Linked DNA regions of Homo sapiens: regions 1, 2, 4, 5 and 6 are each linked to region 3. Evidence: fine-mapped expression QTL. A gene starts in region 3. Each other region holds a variant in brackets. All regions are shown on one strand. Distances are between the middles of the regions. Region 1 overlaps NCAPD3 (non-SMC condensin II complex subunit D3). Region 2 overlaps ACAD8 (acyl-CoA dehydrogenase family member 8). Region 3 holds the start of NCAPD3 (non-SMC condensin II complex subunit D3). Region 4 overlaps LINC02731 (long intergenic non-protein coding RNA 2731). Region 5 overlaps NCAPD3 (non-SMC condensin II complex subunit D3). Region 6 holds the start of GLB1L3 (galactosidase beta 1 like 3).

Region 1 (4,087 bases), 38 kb after region 3:
GGTTAGGGCCGACCCTAACAGCCACGTTTTAACTTCATCACCTCTGTAAAGGCCCTATAGGAGGGAATGGTAGAGGTGATGAAAGCTGAGCCTGAGGTTTGGAGGAGTTGGAAGAGGAAATATTTTATTCAACTGAACAAACATATTTTGAGGACTTCATTTTCCAGGACTGGTTCTAAGTGCTGGAGATTCACAGAATAGTTCAGTGCACTTCCTCTCCTCCAGTTGCTCTTGGTCTAGTGAAATAGACAAAAGCAAGTCACAATTTTAGTGGAAAGGGAGCTACAGGAGAACAGAGGAAGGGCACCTGGCATTTTGGTGATTATTTCTTCCTCTTTGTCCTCTTTCTTTCTTCTTCTGGCTTAGGGTGGCTTCCCAGAAGTAGTGGCGTGGGTAGAATATTTGGGAATGTGTAGGAATTCAGCAGCCAGAGTAGTAAGGGTTACCAGAAAGGAAATAGTCATGCAAAAGCTCAGAGGCCAGAAGGCTCTATGAAATCTCAGGAAAATGCCTGAATCAATTGCTGTTGACTGAGGTGTGGAGAGCAGAAGTCGGGCAGGTTGAGGACAGAGGGAGTGCTGGAGATGGAAGCCCAGCTTCAACTTGAATGCTTTGTCACACCTCAGTTGGGAGCTCTTGGTAATGCATGAGGTCACCCAGAGTTAGGTTGGAGATAAGAGGACTAAGAATAGAGCTTTTCAAATCAGCAATTAGTTATTAGAAGACAGGAATTAGTTACAGGAGATGAAAAGAGATCCAACTGGTGGACCAGAGTCTCAGCGCAAGAGTAGTCAGTAACCTCTGGTGGAGGCCATGGAGACGGGCCTGAAGCATGGCCGTTGGTTTTGGTACTAAGATAGAAGTTAGTGTGTTGGGTCACAGTCTGCCCAGGTGGGGAATGGCTGTGGCCCTCAGCTGGGCTGGGAGGCTGGCTGGGAGTGGAGGGCTGGGAGTTGTCAAAGAGGAGCCAAGTTTGAGATTTCTGCAAGTTCAGAGGATTTTTTCCCAATTCTGTTGGCTACATATAATAAACATTACTTAATATTTTATATCGTTATTTTTAAATAAATTTAAAAATACTTGTTCATTGCTTATATCTTGTGGTATTTGGACATAAATCAGACATAAATCATGTTGTAAGCTAACTGTAGTAAGACTTGACATCTGTGGATGGATTTTTAATCAATAGCTGATATATTAGCAAAACTTCATTTATATGCATATGCTTATTATGGTATATAGATGTGTTTATTTTGTTACAGTTACCTTATTCTGTATGTTTTGAGAATTTCCCTTCTAAAAACAGTTTAATGAGGAATTCCTGATGTTCGCGTGTGGGTATGTATGTGTATGTGTTTTCCCAGAAGTCTAAGAAAAATTAATCAAGGGAAGAAGTGTATTTTTCTCTTCATTTAAATATATAATATGGCATTGTCTCATGAATCATATGATCCCATTCAGTGACTTGGGAAGAAGTAAAATAAGAGATAGTTCTAAAACAACAGTGACAGCCAGGCACAGTGGCTCACAACTATAATCTCAGTACTTTGGAAGGCCAAGACAGGAGGATGGCTTGAGCCCAGAAGTTCAAGACCAGTCTAGACAACATAGTGAGACCCTGTCTCAAGAAAGACAGACAAAGAGAGAGAGAGAGAAATTA[G/A]CCAGGTATGGTGACCATGCCTGTAGTCTCAGCTACTCTGGAGGCTGAGGGAAGAGGATTGATTGAACCCAGGAGGTGGAGGCTACACAGAGAGCTGTGATCATACTACTGTGATCCAGCCTGGGTGACAGAGTGAGACCCTGTCTCAAAAACTAGTAATATAACACAAACACTTTAGTACATCAGAAGCATTGTTTTTTATTTTGAAAAGGTTTGAAATATCTATTTCTGAGTGGTATTAAGTTATTGCATATTTTAGCTCATTTAATATCATCATATTTAATTGTTAGGTTGTCATTTACAATCCTGCCATGTAGTCCCAGCTACTCGGGAGGCTGAGGCAGGAGAATGGTGTGAACCCGGGAGGTGGAGCTTGCAGTGAGCCGAGATCGCGCCATTGCACTCCAGCCTGGGCGACAGAGCGAGACTCCATCTCAAGAAAAAAAAAAAAAAAAGGACAATGTTACTAATTTTTGTCACTATAACTGTGTAAGCTCTGGATGTATCTGTAACTGACCCCATGCAGTTATGTAGAAATTTTGGAGGGGAGGAGGATAAGAAGAGTCTGAAATGAATTGTGAAATTTTATTCTTTACTTTAAGGAATATTTTATGAGGGGAAAAATGAATATAACTGATAGTAGAATAATAAAAATTTAAAAGATACCTAGTTTGGTATCAGACACGCCACTAATTAGGAACGTCTACATATAAGTTTCATGTGCCACTTGAGTCCTGGAGCAGCAGAAGTTGATACCCTTTCAGTGAGGCTCCCATCTGAATCATTTTGTATATTTACAGTTGCAATTCTGCTTTTCTATCTTTTTTTTTTCCAGCCGATATTTAAATAAGGCTTTTCATATCTGGTCCAAGAAAGAAAAATTCTCACCCACTTTTATAAACAATGTAATATCTCACACTGGCACGGAACATTCGGCACCTGCCTGGATGCTGCTCTCCAAGATTGCTGGCTCCTCACCCAGGCTGGACTACAGCAGAATAATACAATCTTGGGAGAAAATCAGCAGGTTTGTATCTTCTAATTTAACCAGTAATGACACTGAAGAGTCTTAGAAACAAAGCCCAAGACTTAAGGAAGTGAGCTTTTTCATAGCTATTCATATACAGAGACCTTCTGTTTAAAACCTGGTATAAAAACAAGCATGAAAAAAATAAGAATCATGTTTCACCCATTTCCCCTTTGTCCAAGTACATTAAATGCCTTGATGTTCCCACAGCTTGACTCCTAAGCCATGCTACCTACCCTGCTTCCTCCAGTGTTATTAATCCAGAAGAAAGGCCTTTGTTGGCAGCAGTGTTTAACTTGCTTCTCCCTTCATATTCCTCCTGCCCTTTCTCTAGTCAGCAGAATCCCAATTCAAACACCTTAGGACATATTCTCTGTGTGATTGGGCATATTGCAAAGCATCTTCCTAAGAGCACCCGGGACAAAGTGACTGGTGAGTGTCTGCTGGAGAATCTTATGTGAAAATGCATTGCTGTTCATTTCAGGTGTGTGTGTGTGTGTGTGTGTGTGTGTGTGTGTGTGTGTATATATACCTGAATATATTTAAGCAGTTGAACTTCAGGGGTTTTGACTTCCTTCATAGATGCTGTCAAGTGTAAGCTGAATGGATTTCAGTGGTCTCTAGAGGTGATCAGTTCAGCTGTTGACGCCTTGCAGAGGCTTTGTAGAGCATCTGCAGAGACACCAGCAGAGGAGCAGGTATGGCCAGACTTTCCCTGACATGTTTCTGACTTCTTTGAGCTTAGGATGTTACTGTATGTGTTTTGAAGTGTGAGGAGCATTCTCTATAAATAAGAGGACGTGTAAGGATGTCCCCCGCAGCTATTGCCGCAACAAGGCAAGGTTTACATAACTAGCAATTGACATTCCCCAAGAAGATTTAGCTGCCTAAGAGACACGGCACCCTTAGATGGTCACCACCTTGATCGCAGGTGCGAGTGTCTTTAGGTAAGCATTCCTGTTGATTGTCATTTCCTGGTGAGAATTCTGCAAGGTTCTCTTTCTCCTTGACTTCCACTCTCATTCCAAGAACACTTATAGACAATTTTCCACTTAAGCAGGAAGTTCCCTCCAGAACAGGTTTCTGACCTTCTGATAAGTCATAATCTTGGACATGCCTGTCCTGTTACTATGAGGTTACACTACTCAAATATCTCTTGTTGGTATCGTGTCCCCACAGTTGCCTATAGCCCACAGCTAGTGTTTTTATATAAACAGAAATCCACATCAGTGATTTATGGGAGGCAGAGAGGTACTTTGACTCCTTAAAAGGTATGCATACCAGTAACTGAAGAAATAATTTTATTACCATATATTTATTCTGTTTTTATCATGAGATATACTCTTAGTACCAATCATAATGAAAAAATGTAGAGCTGGGGTTATTAATAATGGCTATAG
Region 2 (4,087 bases), 38 kb before region 3:
CAGTATATACAGGATAATTCTAATTAAAATTAAAAATGTACCAACAAAGGCAGAGTAAAATGCCTAAAAGGAGATGTACCAAAATAACATTCTGGATGTAGAAACATGAGTGATTTTTTTTCTTTTACTTTTCTTTTGAGACAGTCTTGCTGTCGCCCAGGCTGGAGTGCAGTGGTGTGATCTTGGCTCACTGCAACCTCCGCCCCCCAGGTTCAAGCAATTCTCTTGCCTCAGCCTCCTGAGTAGCTGGGACCACAAGCATGTGCCACCAGGCCCCACCAGGCCCGGCTAATTTTTTGTATTGTTTTTAGATGGAGTCTCACTGTCACCCAGGCTGGAGTGCGATGGTGCAATCTCAGCTCACTGCAACCTCCACCTCCTGGGTTCAAGCGATCTTCCTGCCTCAGCCTCTCGAGTAGCTGGGATTCCAGGCATGCACCACCACGCCCAGCTAACTTTTTATAATTTTAGACAGTCGGGGCTTCACCGGGTTGGCCAAGCTGGTCTCGAACTCCTGGCCTCACGCGATCCACCCGCCTCAGCCTCCCAAAGTGCGGCGATTATAGACATAAGCTACCGCACCCAGCCTACTTTTCCTAATTTTATAAGGTTTCAACAATAAATACACATTTCTTTGGTAATCAGAAAACTGACTTACAAAAGAATGAAAACATTTTCCCTGAAAGGAGGGTATCAATTATTTGCTTCATTTTTAGCAGTGGCCTTTAATGCAAAAAGAAATATAAACCCCCTCGAGGAATCAGTAGTCACATCGTCTCAAATAAAGCATAAACTGTAGATTTATCCAACAGTAAAGTCCATGATGAAACAAAGTGATACAGTGATGAGTGCCCCAATTCTTCTGTAAGTGGGTGATGGTGTGGCCTACAATAAATGTTTTCCTGCTTATTATTGCAGGGTGGAGAGAGAGTTAGAATGAAGGCGAAGTTTCCTACGCACATAAAGCTCAGTGAGAAAGCAATTCCAAGAGTAATGGAAGGAAAACGACTCTCGGGAATTCAGTTTGAACACTGGCGACTGAGCCCATAAACATCTTTCTGGAATGAGGTTTGCAGAAGAAAGCAGCGGTCTAACCTGTGGTAGCCTGTGACTCTGACATTAACACCAGAGCGGTGGGTCTCAAAGTGTGGTTCTCAGACAAGCTGTGGCAGCCTCACTTGAAGACTTGTTGCAGATACAAATTCCCAGGCCCACACTAGACCCTCTGGAGCAGAAGCTCTGGGGTTGAGGCCCGCAATCTGCGCTCCCATGCCCTCCAGGCGATTCCAGCACAGGCTGAGGTTTGAGAAGGGTGCTGTGAAAGGGGCAGGGAAGCCCCATTATATAATGTTTCCAGCAAGGCAGCCTCACGTTGCTTCACCGAAGTCACTCAAAGAAGCCTCTGCCCCTCCTGCTTTTCCAAGAGTCGTGTCATTTCAAGACTTCCGCACTGGCTGTAGAGAGTGGAGACAGCCAGGCTCCGAGCCCGACCCCAACGGCTTCCATGTTTCCTCGATAGAATGTCTGTGACTACCAAGAAGATACCCATATAGTGATGGTTTATTTTATTGAAAAATACACTAGTAATATTGAGACAGGTATCTTTTAGGCCATCTGGCTGATAATCAATATAGAGCTACTGATGACCATACTGGCTCACATTTGCCTTGTCCATCACTGTTCTTGGATCCCTGAGAACCACGTACTCGATAACCTTAGAGAAAAGCCCCGGCTGTGGTTTTCAACATGCTTTCTCATCCATTATCTCAGTTCACCCTTCTCGCAGATCTCCAGAGGAAAAGGGCAGCAGCAGAGCGATCTGAGGCCCCCCGAAAGGGACGAAGCTGCGGCTCTGGACTCCAGGCCCCTGCCAGAACAGCTCTGCGGAACGGGAGGGAGGAGGAAGCCTCGAGACAGACAGGGCTTGACTGCACCCTGAGGCCCAGGAGGCATGGGGACAGAGAGTGGGGAAAGCAGCGATCCCGCCCCCGTTCTGAAGGGAAGAGAATAACCTCTGGCAATTTTTACCTTCTAGAATCTGGTGGACCCTGGAGTCCCGCACGTACTGCTGAACAGCGTAATCCTTCAGGTAGCCGTAGCCCCCGTGCATCTGCAAGGCCTGGTTGCAGATCTGCAGGGAGACAGGGACTAGACGTCTTGGACTCTGGGAAGACTGTGGAGCAAGCAGCTTCCCTTCCTACCCCAGCCCACGATCTGGCAGCCCGCCATAAAC[C/G]CATGAAAGAACCACAAACAGCCAAGCTCAAAGAGGGCCTCCACATTCTGTATGGTTAGAGACAAGGGAAGTTCACCTACTAAACTTGTCAGTTCCCCCCAGACAGGCGACTCAAAGCCCTCTGCCCCTCTCCCTTATTACCTGCCAGGCAGAAGCTGCCCACAGCCACCCTGGCTGGGATGATAAAAAGCTATGGTTCCCCCTAGTGGCAATGCAGCCTGACAATGTAAACATGGCAGAGTGCTAAATTGGGGCTGCTGTGAACCTTCCAAAGGTGGTTTCTCGCCTAGAACACAACCAAACAACAGTGACATAATGAAGTGTATAATGGCATGCAGCAGGCCTAAAAGCCAGCGATGAGAGCTCCCACATAGGCCGCTCATGAGTTCATTTATATCCTTAAGCTTAAGGTGATCCTTGTGGGATTCCAGGAGGGCTGGGTTCCAAATCTGACTCATGTCTCTCAAGACCCCTGGGCCTAGCAGCTGTTCCCTGTCCATCCCAGGAGAGCCAGAGGAATCACTTACGGCAAAGCATTCATCTGTAGCAAAGAGCTTGGCCATGGAGCACAAGGCCACTGCATCCTTCCTCTCCTCCTGCAGAGCCACTGCTGCATTGCGGACCATCAGCCGCGCGGCCACCAGCCTTGTTGCCATATCAGCCAGTGTGAATTGCAAGTACTGCAGCACAGGGAGCAGAGAACCAGACAAGACTGAGGGGCTTAGACCAGCACCTGGTGCAGGAGCCTCGGTAAGACATCTCGGAGGCGCCTTTTCTAAGTGATCCAAAGCTTCAAAGTCTCTTGCTTTTTCTATAGAGGAAATTTATTGCTTTTAAGTGCTAAGTCCACTTCACTCACCCGACACTTTAATATCGTTAAAGATATCCCAAGAAAAGATGGACAGAAATAAAGCACAAGCTCTGGCTAGGACAGTGGTGGGACTGACAGAGGAATTTCCTGGCTTCTCTCCTGGAAATGTGGGCCCTAGAGCAGGTCCCGGGCTGCAAATAGTGCAAAGCCATGTGGAGGCAAGGCAGAGGTTACCTGGTTACTGGCCAGAGGCTCTCCAAACTGCTTCCGGACATTGAGGTGGTCTCGGGTGAGGATGACAGAGGCGTGGGCAGCCCCCAGGGAGCAGGAAGCTAGAGGGGAAGAGCGCCGACGTTCCAACCAAGCTGGAAAACAGCAGTGCCTGTCCCGGACCGCTACCTCCCTGCCACACCCCTGCGTATCTCACCAATATTGATCCTCCCTCCGTTCAGTCCTCTCACGGCAATGAGGAAGCCCTGCCCCTCGCTCCCAATTCTGTTGGCCACAGGGACAGCACAGTCTTCGAAGATCACAGCTCGTGTTGGCTGGGAGTTCCACCCCACCTGGCAAAAATCAGGGACTGCGTGGTTGCCCAACAATCCAGCAGGTAGGGCGGCCTTCCCTGGGGACGGGAGCCTGTGAGGTATGGGTTTCAGCACCCAAGACTTAGACCCACAAGAACTTAAAATGAGGAAAAAGAAAAAGTTCAGGTTTAAAGGCCTGTCAGCACTCAGAAAGATACCTGTTTCAGCTAAACATTTTCTAACTTATTAAGAGAATCTACTAATGTCTACTCTACCTGACTAACCTACAAACACTTCTCACAACTTCTTTTAGGATTGTGACACCAACTGCCCCCAATTTCAGTGCCTCTAATTGAAAACCACAAACTATCTACAATCTCCCAGTTCCTCTCTGGCTCTGAAAATAGACTGCCTTTACATCATTTCCTTGCTCTCTTTTGTTGATAGGATAAACTCCATTTCTAAGCCTTTTACTGAAGGTCTTCCTGCCCAGGAGTTAGCATGGGCTTCACACACAGT
Region 3 (4,077 bases):
CTCCTGGGTTCAAACAATCCTCCCATCTTAGCCCCCCGAGGAGCTAGGACTACCGGCAAGCACCACCACGACCAGCTAATTACAAAAAAATTTTTGGGGGTAGAGGCAGGTCTTGCTATATTGCCCAGGCTGGTCTCCAACTCCTGGCCTCAAGCAATCCTCCCACTTCAGCCTCTCAAAGTGCTGGGATTGTAGGCATCAGCCACTGTGCCTGGCGCTGTCTAGTTCCAATGATTAATAATCATGTTTAAAGCATTGAGAAACTCTGATCACTTAATTGTGGTTTTTAGAAACACCATTTCTTTGTCTTTAAACAGAAAATGTGGTAACTGAAAACTTGCATTCTAATAAAGAAGTCTAAGAAACGCAGCCTAGGTAGTCAGATTTAGACTGAAGATTATGGGTCTTCTTTCTGGAAACATGTACAAGCATAGGTAGTTCAGGGCTGAGGTGAGGTAAGAGAGAACTGGTTAGCTCTCTCACACCACATCTAAAGAGAAAAACGGGTTGGTGCGGGCTCTGGGAAGTGGGGCTCGGTGGACGAGCCTCACTTTGCGTCTGGCAGTTGCAGATGGCCGGGCGATGGGAAAGCCAGTATTGGCAGAGCGGTCTCCCCCTAACAAACCCACCTGCAGGCTATGGCCAGAGCACCTCACCCAGAAATCCTGGGGACAAGAAGCAAAGCCGAGTGCATGCCGGAGACAATGGGGAGAACCCATAGGCAAGGTGCCCATCCCACGAGGCACAGCAGGGCGCTTCCTCCCGCCCTCGCCGTCCCCATCTCCCTGGCAGCGCGCTGTCACTTTTGGCAGGGAGGACAGTAACGCAGGGGGAGTCGCCCACGGGCGGGACTTGTAGCTGAACCCCAGGCCTCAGACTGCAGTTGACAAGCGACTGTGACAGGCCTCGCCGGAGGAGCTGGGCCCTGAATCACCCTGCTCCCCGGCCGGCTGTCGGCGCTGGGGGAGGGGGTCCCGGGGGTCGACTCACCGATCTGCCCGATGAACTCGATCTTGATGCCCTGGTGCTCCAGCCGCTTGTTGGGGTTCTTGAGGGCAAGGCTCACCTTCCCGGAGACCGTCTCCCCGTCGTAGAAGAGGAAATATTTCTCCTTCTTCCCGTCCTCCGTCTTGTGCTCGGCCCGCTTCCTACTCTCTGCATCGTTCAGAAGGATTTCCACCTCCACGCTCTGCCCGAAGCCGAAGAAGCTCATCGCACCGCCGGGCCGGGCGGGTCTCGGTAAGGACCGCTCCCTCGCACCGGGGCGCGGGCTGCCCTAGGTAAAGAAGGCCAGAGGGCCCGATGCGCGAGCGCGCTCGGCCGCCGCGGGGCTGCCTGGCTCCGCCGCTGCCGCCGGGCAGTGGGCGCCGACGGACAGCCGGCTCCACGGGGGAGGGGCACGGCCGGGGGAGGCTGGCGGCTGCGGGCTGCGGCGCCCGAGCAGCAATGCACCGAGGAGCAGTGCCCTCGGCCGAGCCAGTCCCAGCCAGTCCCGCGGCCGGTGGCAGTGGGCGGGCGAGGGTCGGCCGTGCAATGCTGCGGGGGGCAGCCGCACAGAGCCGGGTGTGGGTGGCCTGCGCCTGCCGGGTGGGGTCCAGCGCCGAGCAGCGCTGCGAGCTGCCCAGCCTCCGGCGGTGCAACGCACCGAGGCGCTTCGGCGGCTCCGGGCGGGGGAGGGGGCGGGCGAGCTCCAGCCCGGATGCGCTGGAGCAGCGGCGCGCAGGCGCACCCCCTAACGCTCCTGGGACTCCCGGCAGCCCGGAGGAGAGCTCGCTGCGCATGCGCAGGGAGAGCGCGGCCGGCGCTCCAGCGGTCGGCATGGCAGCTGCTACCTCGCTGGGACAGGCTCTGGGCCCACGCGTGCCGCGCAGTCCCTACAGAACTGCAGTTGTCTTGTCTTCTCGGAGTGCTTTCGGCTACTTTTCCCTTATTACTTTAGCTCGATACACGTTGGGCTGCCTTTCACATTCGGATATTACGCTGTTCGAGTGCTGACGGGAAAGGCAGCCCTTTGACACGCACGCGAAATGTCGCCTGACGAGGGCAAAGGTGACAGTTACTACCGGAAGTACCCTATCTCAGATACCCTTTAGATTTTCCCCCATTGAAGAAAAACGAGGCGGGAAAAACGCTGTTAGGGTTTAACTCAGGCCCTGGCTCCTTCTCGAACGAATTAGCGGAACACCCGCAGGAGCCTTGTTTGGCTTCCACTTTTCGGCCCGCCCAGTTCTCTGAGCGTGCGGCGGACGACGCCGGTGATTGGTTGAGCGAATGGAAACGGCTCGGCGCGGTGGTTGGCCAGTGGGAAATTCTGTACGTTGTGATTGGTCCACAGGAACGACTCGGCGCGCGCGCGGGAGCGAGCTTTGAAAGTTGAGCACGGCGGCGGCGAGCCGGTGCCCTGGGATCATGGTGGCGTTGCGGGGCCTTGGTAGCGGCCTGCAGCCCTGGTGTCCGCTGGATCTTAGACTCGGTGAGCAGATGCAGCCGGGAGGCCCGGGGGCCAGGGCGAGGGTCCTATGCGTCCCCGACGATGCCTAAGCCCGGGCCGGGGTGCCGGTGGGGGCGGGGTGGGGGCGCCCGGCTGTCGGCGGTGCCTGGGGTCCCCAGGGCCGTGCCACGCCAGGATTGCGGCTAGCCAGGTTTCCCGTGGGGGCTCAAGCCGGCCAGGCCACCCTTAGAATAAGCGAATGTTGGCCAGTCTCTTCTAGCGCCTGTGCATCTGTTTTCTCGGCCTTCCCCTTCTTCCTGTGCGTGTCTTCGTGCACCTATCTATTCTTACCTATTAAGATGGTTTTAAATTGCAAATCTCTTTCTTCCGCCAGACTTATTTCTTGAACTTCATGTTCATAGGTTCCACTGGATGTCTCACATGCAGACATCATCAAACGTCACATGAGTGAAAATGGGATTCCCAAAGCCTGCTAATGGCACCATCCAAGCCACCAACCCAGGAGTCATGGCATTTCTGCTTCCCCTTTCATGCCCACTACCACTGTCCTGCCTCTGAGGTGTCTCAGGGCAGCCCCGCTCCATTCCTGATGCTGCTGCCTTCATCATAGCCTCGAGCAATTGCAGGAGTATTTTAGCTGCTTTCTGATGTTAACTGTGCCAGCCCATCCCCCACACTTTTGCAGAACGACTTTTGAAAACACAGCTTTGAATGTGTCAAGCCTGTACACCTTTAATGTTTCCCCTTTGTTTCCTAAATAAATGACCACATCCTTGGCATGCTTTATAAGAGCTGCCATTCTCTCCAGTTTGATTTTCCAAGAGCATAACCTTTGGAGTCGGACACACTTGGATTGTTCCCTTGGCTCTACCCCATAGCATCCATGTATTACCGTGCAGGTTGTTTATCCTTGCTAAACCCCTGTTTTCTGATCTGTCAAATGGGGAGTACAATATCTACCTCACAGGGGTTTTTGTAAAGATAAATTTGTACTTGCCACATAATAACTGCTGAACAGATACTAATACCCACAAGCAAACACTGTAACAATTTTGTTCATTTAGAAACACTTTAATTTCTTTCCCTTTGTGTGCTTTGTTACACTGTGCTTGCTGGGAGGCACTTTTCTGCATTTATTTGCCTGGCAAAACTCTTACATTCAGGTCCAATTGAAGAATCATCTTATTCCTCTCCCTCCTCCCCCAGTACTATTCCCTATTAAGCTCTGTAGCATTTTACATTTTACATATCTATTATTTTAACACTCATCCATAGCAAAAATAATAAATACCATCTATTGACTGTTTTTTATGTGGCTAGCACATTGTTAGGGCCTTTATACACATTATGTTTCACAAAAATCCTGTATTTCCAATGATGAAGGAGAGACTAATTATGTGTAAGTGATCAAGTCAGGATATTTGCCTCGTTCTGACTCAAAATTCAGTGGCCTCTCTTCTATCATAGGCTGCTTTTTTTGGTATCCTAAGTGTGAAATGTTGAGATCTTTGTGGACAAGAACCCTCTAGTATTCATCTTTATATCCCTAGAAGTATAAGTGGCTTCCCTAGTATTTTCTCAAAGTGTTTGTTGAGTGAATAGGTGATGTATTTCTTCCTCTTCTT
Region 4 (4,087 bases), 180 kb after region 3:
CTTGTGTTCAGAGCTCAGTCAAAAGGGCAGGGGGAATTGGGGTGGCATGGAGACTCAGTCTCTCTGCCGATAGATAAGTCTGCCAGGACTTCCCCGGTACCTCCTCTCTGCCCACAGCAGCCACAGGTATTCTGAACATGCTGAAAGACAAGACAGGGTCTGGACATCAGGAGCCCAGAAAGATCATCTTCGTCCTGTAGCTCGGTGGCTCGGCCTCGGGAGGCTGTCTTGCAGGGCCTCACTGATCATCATTCAGAGGGAGCTGCATGGGGAAGGAGAGGGAGATGGTGCAGTTGGATGCCTGCCTCTCTTGGGCACTGATGGGCTGGGTGAGGGTCTCTTGAAGGGTGGTCCCCCCTTGAGTGGGAGCAGATGGACTGGAGGGGCATGGCTCACGTACAGGTTGGTGGAGGAGCTTCCCCCAACCTGGGCCCTGGAGGACACAGTTCCCAAATGGAGTCTTTTCTTCCTATGCTGTTGAAAGGCGGCACTACCATCTGCTCAGGTCCATGCGCTGGAAACTTTAGGGTCCTCCAGTGGCCCCAGGCCTGTCCCTTCCTTCCTCTAGCCCTCAGCAGGTTCTCCTGCTCTCTTCTTGCCAATGTGCGGCCTCCTGGTCTTGCTGCAGACCCAGCCCTCCTTCCCCCCGGTCTCATCTGCAGGTCTGCAGTGCCCCTGGCTGAGCTTTCTAGACATGTCACAATGTTGCCAGATTTTTCTTTCTGAAACTTAGATTTTATGATGTCATTCCCTGCTTGAAAATCGTGGTCACCGCACTGTCTTCAGGAGAAGGTGAAACCCCCCAGCCCAGGCCTTCTCAGCCTCTGTGCTCTCTGCATTCTGGGGGGGCTCTGCTCTGCTGTGGGGGCTGCCCTGTGCATGGTGGGTGCTTAGCAGCACCCTGGCCCTACCCACCAGGGGCGGGGAGCAGCCTCCCTCCCACTCCTGCAAGTTGTGACAACCAAACATGTCTCCAGCCATTGCCAAATGACCTCTGAGGGGTAAAATCGGTTGAGAATCACTGTGGTAGCCTATAAAATAGGATAATAATAACTAATGACAATGCTTACTTACTCAGCTCTGTGCTAACAGCTTTCCATGAGGTCTCTCATTTAATCTTCAAAATATCTCTATAGGGAAGGCCCTATTAGTATCTCCATCTTACAGATGCTCAGAAGGCAGAAGGAGTCCAGATCTTTCAAGATAAAAAGACTTTTTCCTTCCATGTGGGGTAAGAAGAGAGGTAGATAATTCAAAATCACTTCTCCTTCAGGCAAGAGCCACAGAACCGGAGGCAAGTCAGGCAGGCTTGAGCTCCAGTCTGTCTGCTGGCAAGATCTGATTTCTCCCCACGAGCCCCTGTCCACGCTTCCCAATCCCACACCTTCATGCAGGCCAGTTCCCTGCCTGAGAAGTTCCTCTTTGGCCTGGGGAGATCTGTTCATTATTCAGGGCCCAGGCAAAAGCCCCTGTCCTGTTCTCTGTGAAGGCCCCCAGGCCCCAGGAGGAAGAGAGAATTATCCCTTCTGCGTGGCTCATGACCACACACACCCTGGGTGACGAGTCCTGCAATGGCTAATTGTGCAGGCATCTTATTCTGTGCCAGCCTATCTTGGGGCAGGGGTCTGGGGGTGGGGACTCCGGCTGGTCCTCCTTCATCATGATGACATGGAGTGCCTTGCACAGAGCGCTGGATCCCCAAATGTGTGTGGAGTGGAATGCAGTGGGGCAGTAGGCGGGTAGTGGCTCCTTCCAGGACGTGACGCTGAGCCCACTGGACACCAGGAACCACAGGGCCTCCCGGCAGGCAAGGGAGACCGAGGGCCCCTCCTCTGGGCTGACGCAGACTCTCAG[C/T]AGAAGACATGGCTTAAGGAGCAACACATGGCTGGGTTTTGGCCGCCTTGGCTGGGGCCTCTGAGCCATGCCTAAACTGCAGACTTGAGGGATGATGCAGCTCAGAGCTTGCTTTGGTGTCTGGAGTAACGAAGGCTCGTGTTCTCTCTCACGCAGGCTTCTAAGAGTGTGTGCATGCAGGCACGTGCTGCTGTGCGTGAGTGCACAGCATGTGTGCTGTGTGGAAAGAGAGGCTGTGGGTGCCCTTTCCCAGGCGTGCCGCATCACTGAGGCACTGGTCATAGGCAGCATTTGCGCATTTCTGCTCTTGACACTGGGTTGCATACACAGTCCTGTCACACAGAGTCAAGGTCCAGGAACCCACCAGCGTTCTAGAGCCTTGAAGAGTGCTGTCCGCTCCCTGCCTGCCCCACGTTGCACCTAGGCAGACGGCAGTCCGAGCTCCGCTCCCCGCCTGCCCCACACTGCACCTAGGCAGATGGCAATCCGAGCTCGCTCTCCTTTCTCCCTCTCTCCCGGCTAGAGGAACGGAGCTCACACAGCATTGACCCCTGCCTGGCCTCTCTAAGCAGTTGCCAGACCCCCTGTAGCTGGATGACCACTGGACTGGGGAGGCGGTCTCGGCCAATGGTGGTGGGCAGGTGGGATCAGCTGAATGAGTCCCAGGAGAAGCCAAGTGCAGAAGCTGGCACTTCGTGTTTCCTATTGCCAACCAGCAGAGAAAGGCCTTCTTGAGAAGAAGTCATAATTTTTGGAAGAGTGGCTGAACAGAGAAGAAACAAGGCACAGGGGCTGGGGCCATTCCCCAAGATAGGCCCAGACTGTGCCTGTGGCCATGTGCCTCATGAGAGTGTGCCCACCTGGGTCGTGTGAGGCAGGGGCTGGGGTGGGGAGGCAGTTATACTTGTGAAGTATGCATAGTGGGTAGCTGTACACCAACCCACGTGAAGAGAGTGTAGGCCGGAGTTTCCAGGGACGTTTCTGGCCTCACTCCTGCTTGCACGTATGCATGGTACGCGTGTGTACATGCCAGAATAAGAGCATGTGCACCCTGTCTGTGTCAGTGTGTCCCTGCTGTACACACATACACCCCACGTGCCTTCATCTCTGCACCTTCAGGGGTACCCACCTCTGGGCCCAAGCTCTAAATTAGCAGACACACACACACGGCATTCATGGTCTCCAGACTCCTCTACATTTGAAAACAGACAAGGGGAAAAAAAGGGCCAAGAGACAAGACGAGCTAAAAATAGCCGAATATAAGCTCTTCAGATCAGAAAGCTCGGTGTTTTAGTGAGTCACCAGTTTTCCAGACTGAGCATGCACGCACGCACACACACATGCAAACACAAACACCGACATCCCGCCAAGTCACGCCCGCATTGCCGAAGATGCCCTGGGTCCCACACACCCTGTGCTCTGTTCTCACAAGGTAAAATCACCCTCCAAAAGTGGTGATTCTCTGGTCTCTGCTGAATGCTCTCTTGTTGAGCTTGGAAGGCACGAACTATTCCCCAGCTCCCTGCAAACACCTATGCACTTTCATCTCCGCCTTCTCAGCCTCTTCTGATTTGTCTGTGTTTCCTAACCCCAGCCCCACTCCACTTTGTAATGGTTGGCAGAAGACAATGGTCTTTCTGTCCTACTAAGGGTTATGCTGCACTTTTCAGGGGGCCCTGACGCTGGAGAGGTCAGACAGCTCTCTGCACAGCATCTCTGGAGCTGGCCTTTGTGCTTAGGGAGAGGAGACAGCTCCGGACGCCATGCAAGATTTATGAATGTGTTTTGTTAATTGCATTAGTGGCTCTGTGGGAGGATGGTGTGTGCTTTGGCCTTAAACAAGGTGAGCTCAAAAGCGGCAATGGGAGAGGGGACAGGACCAAGGCTGTGTGTATGAGCACCCTGCCATCCTGGGCTGCATGGACCCCCTTGCCCTCTGTTCCCCACGCTCTTGCTGAAGCCAGGGCTCTGTCCCTGCCCTCCTGAGCTCTTGTCTACGTTGCTGCTCAGGCCGGCCTTCCCCTCCTTGGCTCCTTGGGTTGAGAGAGGCCAGACTTGCAGTCATCTTCGATAACTCTATTTCTCTTTTTCTTTCTCTCTTCCTCTTTCTCCCTCATTCTTATCTTTCCTCTTTCTCTTTCCCTTTAAATCCTTCCCTCCGTCTTCACCCACCTTCACCTCTGTCTTTGTGAAATCTAAATCTGCTTTACTCTAAGCGTTTCAATAATTCAGG
Region 5 (4,087 bases), 68 kb after region 3:
GATACTCACGTTTGAGGTGATGGAGATGCCAATTACCCTGATTTGATCATTACGTTGTCCACATGTATCAAAATCTCATATGGACCCCCAACCATGTACAACTATCATATATCCGTTTTTGAAAACTTAAAAAGTATTAGAATGTACATACTCTTTATCTTCTCTACCAGGTTGCCCTGTGTTTAGAAACAGTGCCAGTTCCTGCTGGCCAAGAAAACCCTGCCATGTCACCTGCCGTGAGCCAGCCCTGCACACCCAGGGCAAGTGCTGGCCATGTAGCAGTATCATCTCCTACACCTGAAACAGGGCCATTGCAGAGGTTGCTGCCCAAAGCCAGGTAAAGAGCCCCTGGAGGCCACATCAGGGCTGGTTCTCTGTGGCGATGTTCTCAGAGGCGTCCCTGCCATTCCCAAGCGTGGGCAGGAAAGTCATTGTCATTGTCTGGCCTGCCACCCCGCTCCACACTGTGCCCTGGGAGGTTTGAATGAGGGTGGTGAGGGATGCGCCGGTGAGGAGGCACGCGGGGACACAGTGCAGCACTGTCACCTCTGCAGTGGTCTGCAGTGAGAAAGTCAGCGGCTGTGGCTGTTCTCCACAGGCCCATGTCCCTGAGCACCATTGCAATCCTGAATTCTGTCAAGAAAGCCGTGGAGTCAAAGAGCAGGCATCGGAGTCGGAGCTTAGGAGTGCTGCCTTTCACTTTAAATTCTGGAAGCCCAGAAAAAACGTGCAGTCAGGGTAAGCCTTATGTTTGGTGCCAGACACAGTAGAGCATTTACAGATGAAAACACAGAACAAGCTACTTCTTATTCCTTTCAAAGCGGTGTGTTTTCTTATCTTTAAAACAAATAACGTTAATTGGGCTTTTAGGATCATGGGTAGTAAAACAATGCATATTTATTCTAGGAGATTTGGAAAATAGAGTGAAATATGAAACTCACCCATAGCAGTGAGGCATTCCTTCCTCCAGCTATTCTGTTCCTCTTACACACACGTGTTTTGTTTTGTTTATGGAATTGTGATCTGTGCGTGCATTGTTTTATGACCTGTTTCCCTGCATTCTTAAGTCAGATGTAGTAGATGTAGTAGACAGCTTCCATGAACTTTTCTTTCCAACCTTTGCTTTCAGTGGCTTTATAGCATTGTGGCTGTGGAAATAACTGATTTATTACTATCCTGTTCTTTGAAATGTTGATTTTCAATTTTTCCATACAAATACTATCACAGTAAACATCCTTGTACATATAGCCTTGTATGTATGTAATCCTTGGGATTAATTCCCAGCAGTCAAAGGCCATGGATATTTAAAAACTTTGGATAGTGTCAAACTGTCCTCTATCACTTATGCCAAGTTAGACTCTTTTATTTTTTTGAATCCTAATGAGAATGGACATTTTTTCTCATGTTTATCATTTATTTGTATTTCTTCCTGAATTGCCTCTTTATAAGAAAATTGTAAACACTAGTGATTTTGACTTTACGTCTTGCAGATATGTTTTCTCATGTGGTTGTTTTGCTCTTCGTTATTGTTTGGGG[G/T]TATTTCTGGATAGCAGCACCTTTTCTGTTCTAGTGTCTTCATACAGTTTGGAGCAAGAGTCGAATGGCGAGATTGAGCACGTGACCAAGCGGGCCATCAGCACCCCCGAGAGTGAGTAACTGATCGGAACACGTGGGCTTCTCCTCAGTCTCTCCTGCATTCGTGATGTGTTTGCTAGAGTCGCAGTAAAACTCCTTCCGGTGCAGGATAGTTCTGATGGTCAGAACCATGAGTGCATTGCTGAGGTGGAGTATTTCACAGTGACCACGGTCGCTTGATCCATGAGCACTGACCGAGTATGTTGTTCCAGTGTCGTTACATTCAGTCAGTCAAACACCACAGTGGCCCGCGGAGCAGACAATGCCGTTGAGGCACAGGTAGGTTGGGTGACTGACCCAGTGGTGCCTTCTGGAGGCGGCCCTCCGTGTCTCTGGGCTGTCCGGGTGCACTGGGCGCTGCTGGGTGGGCCTGCTCCCAGGGCGGGCAGACGTCAGCACCAGCAGGTACCATGCACGCTCTGCAACTGCCAAGACCAGAGACCCGGGGACCCCTGCTCGGAGCCTGTGTCTCATTCCCCTCCATGTTTTTTCCTACTGTTTGTGCTTTTCCTTTGATTTCAAAACAGAGGTGAGTTAGGAGAGTTGAGTATTCTTTTCCTATTATCTTGTGTGATAGCTTCATATTGTGTCAAACCTCATAAAAACCATTATTTTGAGAAAACTCTTACAGGAAGAAGAAATGCTTCCTGTCCTAAATCTGTGGAGTAGTGGCTAGGCCCTGCCGCCGTGTCCCTGTGTGCCCCTCGCTCTGCGCCCGGCTGTGCACAGTGCCCTCAGCAAGCTGCATCCAGCCCCGCTCGTCCCTGGCCATTCCACTCCTCACTGTTTCCACAGACCACAGTGCCTGGAACCTGGGAGGTGTCAGAGATCTCCTCCCGGAGACTTCTGGGAGGGCAGAGCTGGGCGCTGAGCCCAGGCCTTCTGGTCCCAACTCTTGTGCCCCTTCTCCAGCCTGTCTCCTAGTCCTGACTGCAGGGGAAGATGAGAGCGTGCTAAGGTGCTCTTCCTGGTAACAGAGCAGCAAGGTGTCCTGCCGTTCGTTTAGTCACTGCTTCAGTCAGCTCATGTGTGTGGAGCACCTGCTGTATTCTAGCTACTTGCTTGTTTGGTTCTGTCACACTGATGCTGTGATCTCTTAGAATAGTTAACAGGTTAGAGGTAATTTTCATCCAGGTCCCCCTTTGAAGGGAGTTTATCCCACCCCCACCCTCAGACGACAACCGAATCATGACGGCATTTGTCATTAAAGGCAGTGGGTAATTTGGGATCCTGCGTCGTGGACAGGTGCGATGTTCTGTGTGTTAGAGCTTGCTGTGTGTTCGATGTTCCTGGCTCAGGAGTGCCAAGAGCTTCTATTTTGGCAGTGAGGTGCCATATGCTGAAGAAACGGGGAGAACGCATCTCATTTTCGTTGTGCTCATCCTGAGTCCCTGATGTCAGTGTTGGGTTGTTTCCTAGCAGCTCGTGTTTCTCCACAGGGCAGCCTGGCGTGGAGGGTTCATGCCGCCCTCATCTGCCTGTGTGGAGCCACGCTTTGTGCTGGAAATCAGGCGCCCGGTGTCATTGAGTTGGTAGAGTACTTGTTCTTGCTCCAGGCTCTTGGACATAATATTCCTGCTGATGCAGTCTCTGTCCGTCTCTCTTTATACTGAACCAGGAAGAAATGCCTGGAGGTCTCCCCTTCCTGGGAGAACTGTTAGATAGTTTAAAAGCACTCAGTTCTGTTTTCTCTGTGGTTTATACGTCCAGATTCTTTTTGGCAACTTTTAGTTTAGGTGGGGGAGACTGTCAGGAAGTGTCTCAGCTCTTCAAAGCTGGCAGGAAAGATGCCACCCAGTTCAGCACCAATTCACAGTGGCTTTGCTAAATGGAAATGAAAATTAGTCAATTTTCAGAGCGAGGATTTTAACTGAAAATCTGTGGGGGTTTTAGCAAGTCCCTGTTACTGTTACCATTCGGGTGGCACAGACGCTGCTGCCTTCGATTCTACGCACAGTGCATGGGGGACGTCAGAGCCCCCGCACCCGGGCTTCTGTAAAGATGGGAGACTAATTTCCTGGAGTGCATATGGGCTTCCAAACAGGAAGAGCAGTGTGTGTGTCAGGAAGGGAATTTCATGTGACAGCACAAGGAGAGACTTCACCGAAACAGAATAAGCAGATCTAGCAGTGATGAGGAATTCTCTACCATCGTCTATTAGTGACACTCAAGTAGCCATCGGGTACACAGCTGCAGTGCGCTGATGAGCTTTGAACTGTAAATGGGAAGACACAGTCCATACTCAAGACACCAAGTGGAGAACGGGGAGCGCTCTGAAGCTGCCTCCTCGCATGTGCTTGCAGAAGGGCAGCAGGTTCAGTGGTACCAGCAAGCAGCTGCCCAGCCCGTGCTGTTCCCGGGAGTGTGCTGGTGGCAGCTTATGCACTGGGTACAGCACCACCCAGGAGGGGCGAGGCTGCACCACCCAGGAGGGGCGAGGCTGCACCACCCA
Region 6 (4,087 bases), 50 kb before region 3:
GTGGTGGGCAGCCCGGGACGGCAGCGGCGATCCGTCACCTGAGGAGGGGCGGGGACTTCATCGCGGCCAGGCCGAGGCGCCGAGGGTCCCTTGCGGCTTCCGCCCCTCTCCGCTGGCCCCGACGCCGCGCTCGGGCCGGGACTCGAGCCCCGGTTCCGCGGGGCAGGCTCAGGTCTGCGCGCTGCGCCTGCAGCCGAGGCAGAAATCCGTCCCGAGGCGCGGGCGCCGGGTCCGGGTCCCAAGGATGCGCGTCGGGCTCCCTCCCGCGGGGACAGCCGAGCTCCGCCGGCGCTCCAGGTGTTCCCGCAGTGCGTCCGGGCGCGGACGCCTCTCTGCCCTCGGAGGGGAAGCGGGAGGGCCCTTGGGGTAACGCCCCGACCTCGGGCTTCCTAACCTGGGTCGACAGCCGGCTGGCACAGGGAGGCCTGCGCGGGAGAGGGGCGGAGAGAGCGCAGCGCGGGGCACAGCGGGCGGTCTCCGTGCCGCGCGCGCGACTGGAAACGGCGTGCAGATCCTAAAACGAGGGTTCCACAGAGGGCCACGAGGGGCAGGAGAGAGTCCCCGGAGAACTCTAGCTCCCCGACACGGCTACCTCTTGGCAAACGAGCGAGAATTGGGGCGCAGAGCCTTGGGAGGGCCGTTCCCTCGGCGGGAGCGGCCCGAGCACAGCCTCACAGCAGATGCGAGCGCGGCGGGCGCTTTGGTGACGAAGTAGCGGGACCTGCAGGAGGCAGAGGCCTGGTGGGGCCGTGGACGCCACGCCGAGCTGCCCAGACCCTTCCAGAAGACAGTGGGGACTATTCAACGGTTTCCAGCAGAAACTAAGCCAGGTGTTCGTTTTACGGAGATTGCTCGGCTGCAGGGTGGAGGCTGGATGAGAACAGGCGTCCTCTCAGGTAGGCGCTCGTGGTGGTAACGCTGCCCAGGAGGAGGGCACGGGTTCCGGGAAGACTTGCGAGGTTAAACCGGCAGCTCCGGAGAACTGAGCGCAAGAGGTCGGTGACACAGAGAGGAGTCCGGGAGGCCGCATGTTTCAGGCTGAAGTCACTTGGCGGGGACGTTTATTGAGATGCGAAACACAGGAAGGGATAGAGGCTGCGCAGAGGGAAAAGGCGATGGACTCGGTTTTGGAAACGCTGATGTGAAGTCCCTACGATGAAAAAAGAAATCTTCCGATTTCTCCCTTTGAAGTCTTTGCTTCTTCCGTTGCAAAGAACACAGCCTATGACATCAGGTTGAAACCAAGAATGTAGTTCTCTGAAAATACTGTGTGTGGGGGAGGGAGTTTATCTTGTCTCATTCCTTACAAGGATACTTTGCTCTCCGACACCTTAGCTCCCTGAAAGTTTCCTAGATCGTCCATCTTTTCCTCATTTTTTCGACTGCAAGCAATGAACTGTTAATTTTTTACAGTTTGGTTTTACAGCCACACACTTTATTCTTCTTTGTCAAGTTTAAAGTATTCTAGGGCTTGTGCCTTCCCACATAAAATTTAGAATAAACTTGTCTGTTTCTACAAAAAGCCATGTTGGTATTTCGAGAGGAATTGCAATCAACCTATGGATCAAATTGAGAATTGTATCCTTATTATGTTGAATCTTCCAACCCACGAACATGGTATGTCTGTCTATTTAAATAGTTTTTTTTTTTTCACTTCTTTCATCAGAATTGTGTGATTTTTTCAACATCAGATCCTATCACGTTTTGTTAGGTTTATACTTAAATATTTCCTTTGCTCTCAAGAGATTTAAACTGTTATTATTTTTATTTCAGTTTTTACATGTTTGTTGTTAGCATACAGAAATGTGATTGTGTTTCTCATGTTGATCTCATATCCTGTGACCTTGGCAAACTCACCTATTAATTTTAAGAGGTTATTTGTGTATTACTTGGCATTTTCCATGTAGATAATCATGTCATCTGCAAATATGGAGAGTTTTATTTCTACCTTTCCAGTCTGCGTGGCTTTTTATTCCTTTTTTTGTGTGTCTTAGTATGATGACTAAAATTTCTGTGTTGAATAAGAGCGGCAGGAACTGACACTGTTACCTTGTCCCCAGTGTCAGCTGGAAAACATTCTGTTTTTCACTATTAAGTA[T/C]GATGACAGCTATAGGTTTTGTGTACATATTCTCTATCAAGTTGAAAGAGTTTGACAGCTGGGCCTGCAGTCACTAGAAATGCTGTGGTGCTTTATTGGAACAAGCTATGTATCAAGAATTGTGATTTTCTGCAGGCGTTGCTGGAGGAATTTTGACAAAGGTAGAAGAATCAAATAATGGATTATTGGTTCATTTGAAAGATGACATATCCTGTGTCCTTTTGCCATCTGGGGCTCCCCTCTGCTGATGGAGTATTTGAGAACCTCTATGAAGGAGCCCTGGAGAGTGAAAGTTCCCCCAGATTTCTGTGCTCATTAAACCTGTAGAACTCTTGAAAATGTGCAAGGTGAAGTAACAATTTTGATCAAACAAAGCTGTCAGTTTCTGTCTTGAGATTACAGAAGTAACTCTACAAGGCCAACATCCCAAGCACAGGAAAGACCAGCCACTAGGGCCGCAGACCCAGCATCCTGGTACAATTTATTAAAAAAAAAAAAAAAAATCAATATTTTTCCCTTCAGTTTCCATCCAGATAACTGATAATGAAACAAAGAGCTAATTTCCCAAAGCAGGCAGAAAGCATCAAAAAGCTCCCAGAGCTGAGTGTGCAAACTTCCTGTGCCAGTGCTTTGATGTTAATAAAGCACAATTCCTGCTCCTAAATTGCTCTCTTGTAAGAACAGCAGCTTCCAGAAAAAGAAGGCAGCACTTTCTGTTGCTTTAGTAGTGGACAACCCTATAGGAGTTAATGTATGAACCAGAAAAGACAATTCTTGATTTCTTCTTAGGTTGAACTTCTTAAAGAAATGTATGTGACAACTGTATAATAAGAACCCTTGTGAGATCCAAAAACCTGGGTTAGGAACTAATATTATCAGTGAAAAATTAAAGGGAAAGATTATCAACTATTAATATTCCAGTGTCAGAGAGCTGTGAACAAAGAGTTGAGGCAGAGATATCTTTAAGGTTAAAGTATGCAAAATCTGTTGTTTACTTGTAAGATCATCTTTCTAGGTTTATTGATAGTTAATAAAAAGCAGCAAAATTTATAAAAGTGAAAATTTAGCCACTTCTACTTGTAAGCCATCCTTGTTAGAGAAACTCTTTGTTTACTTAAGTCATGTTTACTACAGGAAATGAAAAATGCTCATTTGAGCTATAAAATGGACTCCGTGGTCTCTTAGTAATTAATTTAACCCATGATGACACGCAGTTCACAGGCTGAGATGGAGGGATAGGTAGATGACAGATACATCCCTGCTAGAGATCTTCAGAGCCCTAGCTTTAAATTTCATCCTTACAGACATTCAAACTTTAAGTAAATTGATAACCTGTCTCCCACAGATTAAAAAATAAATGAAGTGGATATGCACCCCATCACGCAGGGCCACTCCCAGCAGAGGGAAGTGAAGCAGCCGGCCTCCTGTCCCTCCACAGGGTAACTAACGCTCAAGTGCAGGCCTTTCTAAAGGAGCTGCTCAGCAGGCGGCAGCCCAGCTCGGCCACCGGGCTCTGGCTGTTATCATTCAAATGTGCCTTTTTTATGGACTGAGTCTGCTAGATGCATTCATTAGTTAAGGAAATGGAAAATCATGCGGAGCTCCAGGTGAGAACCCAAGGTTAAAGTGTGTTCTCAAGAGTCTTCTCCCCTGGGAGTTGAAGTTAATCAGCCTGATCAGGTCGGGGGGGAAGGCTTCCTCTCTGCATGAGTGCAGCCTTGGTGATGGAAAAGGGCCACCCTTGAGAAGGTAAGAGAGGAGGGAAGATCGCTGTCTCCATGGGGCACCCAGCAAGAGGCTGCTGTCCTTGCAGATAACCTGATCCATTGAGCTAAGAGCTGGATGGGGAGTGTCTGTAAGAATATTAAAATCCTTATCCAAAAGTGATTTATTTTCATCAGGTTTTTTCCTCTGTTATGAATAGCTGACATTTACCAAGCACTCGTGTGCCAGGCACAGTTCTGCATGTTTGACATTTCTGTCTATTGT

Evidence for each region. PIP is the estimated chance that this variant, and not a neighbour inherited with it, causes the effect.
Region 1: its variant is fine-mapped to the expression of NCAPD3 in whole blood (TOPMed, PIP above 0.99).
Region 2: its variant is fine-mapped to the expression of NCAPD3 in whole blood (INTERVAL, PIP 0.98).
Region 4: its variant is fine-mapped to the expression of NCAPD3 in whole blood (TOPMed, PIP 0.99).
Region 5: its variant is fine-mapped to the expression of NCAPD3 in whole blood (TOPMed, PIP above 0.99).
Region 6: its variant is fine-mapped to the expression of NCAPD3 in whole blood (INTERVAL, PIP above 0.99).

Annotation. Positions count from the first base shown.
Region 1 is chr11:134,183,935-134,188,021 of GRCh38, reverse strand. NCAPD3 (non-SMC condensin II complex subunit D3) reads left to right here. Exons shown (of 35, transcript NM_015261.3): 17 at 2,496-2,687; 18 at 3,022-3,119; 19 at 3,270-3,385. Among named protein-coding and RNA genes, the nearest start is that of SNORD153, 35 kb to the right of the region's middle. The variant G/A (reference allele first, on the strand shown) is at 1,661.
Region 2 is chr11:134,260,564-134,264,650 of GRCh38, reverse strand. It overlaps ACAD8 (acyl-CoA dehydrogenase family member 8), which reads right to left. Exons shown (of 11, transcript NM_014384.3): 7 at 3,472-3,607; 8 at 3,279-3,376; 9 at 2,761-2,913; 10 at 2,029-2,131. Among named protein-coding and RNA genes, the nearest start is that of ACAD8, 9.0 kb to the right of the region's middle. RefSeq lists silencers at 2,469-2,518, 4,021-4,070. The variant C/G (reference allele first, on the strand shown) is at 2,234.
Region 3 is chr11:134,222,259-134,226,335 of GRCh38, reverse strand. It overlaps NCAPD3 (non-SMC condensin II complex subunit D3), which reads left to right and starts at 2,369. Exons shown (of 35, transcript NM_015261.3): 1 at 2,369-2,473. The coding sequence starts at 2,410. VPS26B (VPS26 retromer complex component B) reads right to left here and starts at 1,665. Exons shown (of 6, transcript NM_052875.5): 1 at 991-1,665. The coding sequence starts at 1,213. RefSeq lists enhancers at 779-928, 1,029-1,088, 1,879-1,928 and a silencer at 1,289-1,758.
Region 4 is chr11:134,040,283-134,044,369 of GRCh38, reverse strand. LINC02731 (long intergenic non-protein coding RNA 2731) reads right to left here. Exons shown (of 3, transcript NR_027276.1): 3 at 3,029-4,087. Among named protein-coding and RNA genes, the nearest start is that of LINC02731, 10 kb to the right of the region's middle. The variant C/T (reference allele first, on the strand shown) is at 1,855.
Region 5 is chr11:134,154,579-134,158,665 of GRCh38, reverse strand. It overlaps NCAPD3 (non-SMC condensin II complex subunit D3), which reads left to right. Exons shown (of 35, transcript NM_015261.3): 30 at 171-337; 31 at 599-738; 32 at 1,571-1,648. Among named protein-coding and RNA genes, the nearest start is that of SNORD153, 5.3 kb to the right of the region's middle. RefSeq lists an enhancer at 415-916. The variant G/T (reference allele first, on the strand shown) is at 1,537.
Region 6 is chr11:134,272,715-134,276,801 of GRCh38, reverse strand. It overlaps GLB1L3 (galactosidase beta 1 like 3), which reads right to left and starts at 423. Exons shown (of 20, transcript NM_001080407.3): 1 at 39-423. The coding sequence starts at 61. RefSeq lists a silencer at 245-314 and enhancers at 765-814, 965-1,094, 1,155-1,264, 3,405-3,960. The variant T/C (reference allele first, on the strand shown) is at 2,099.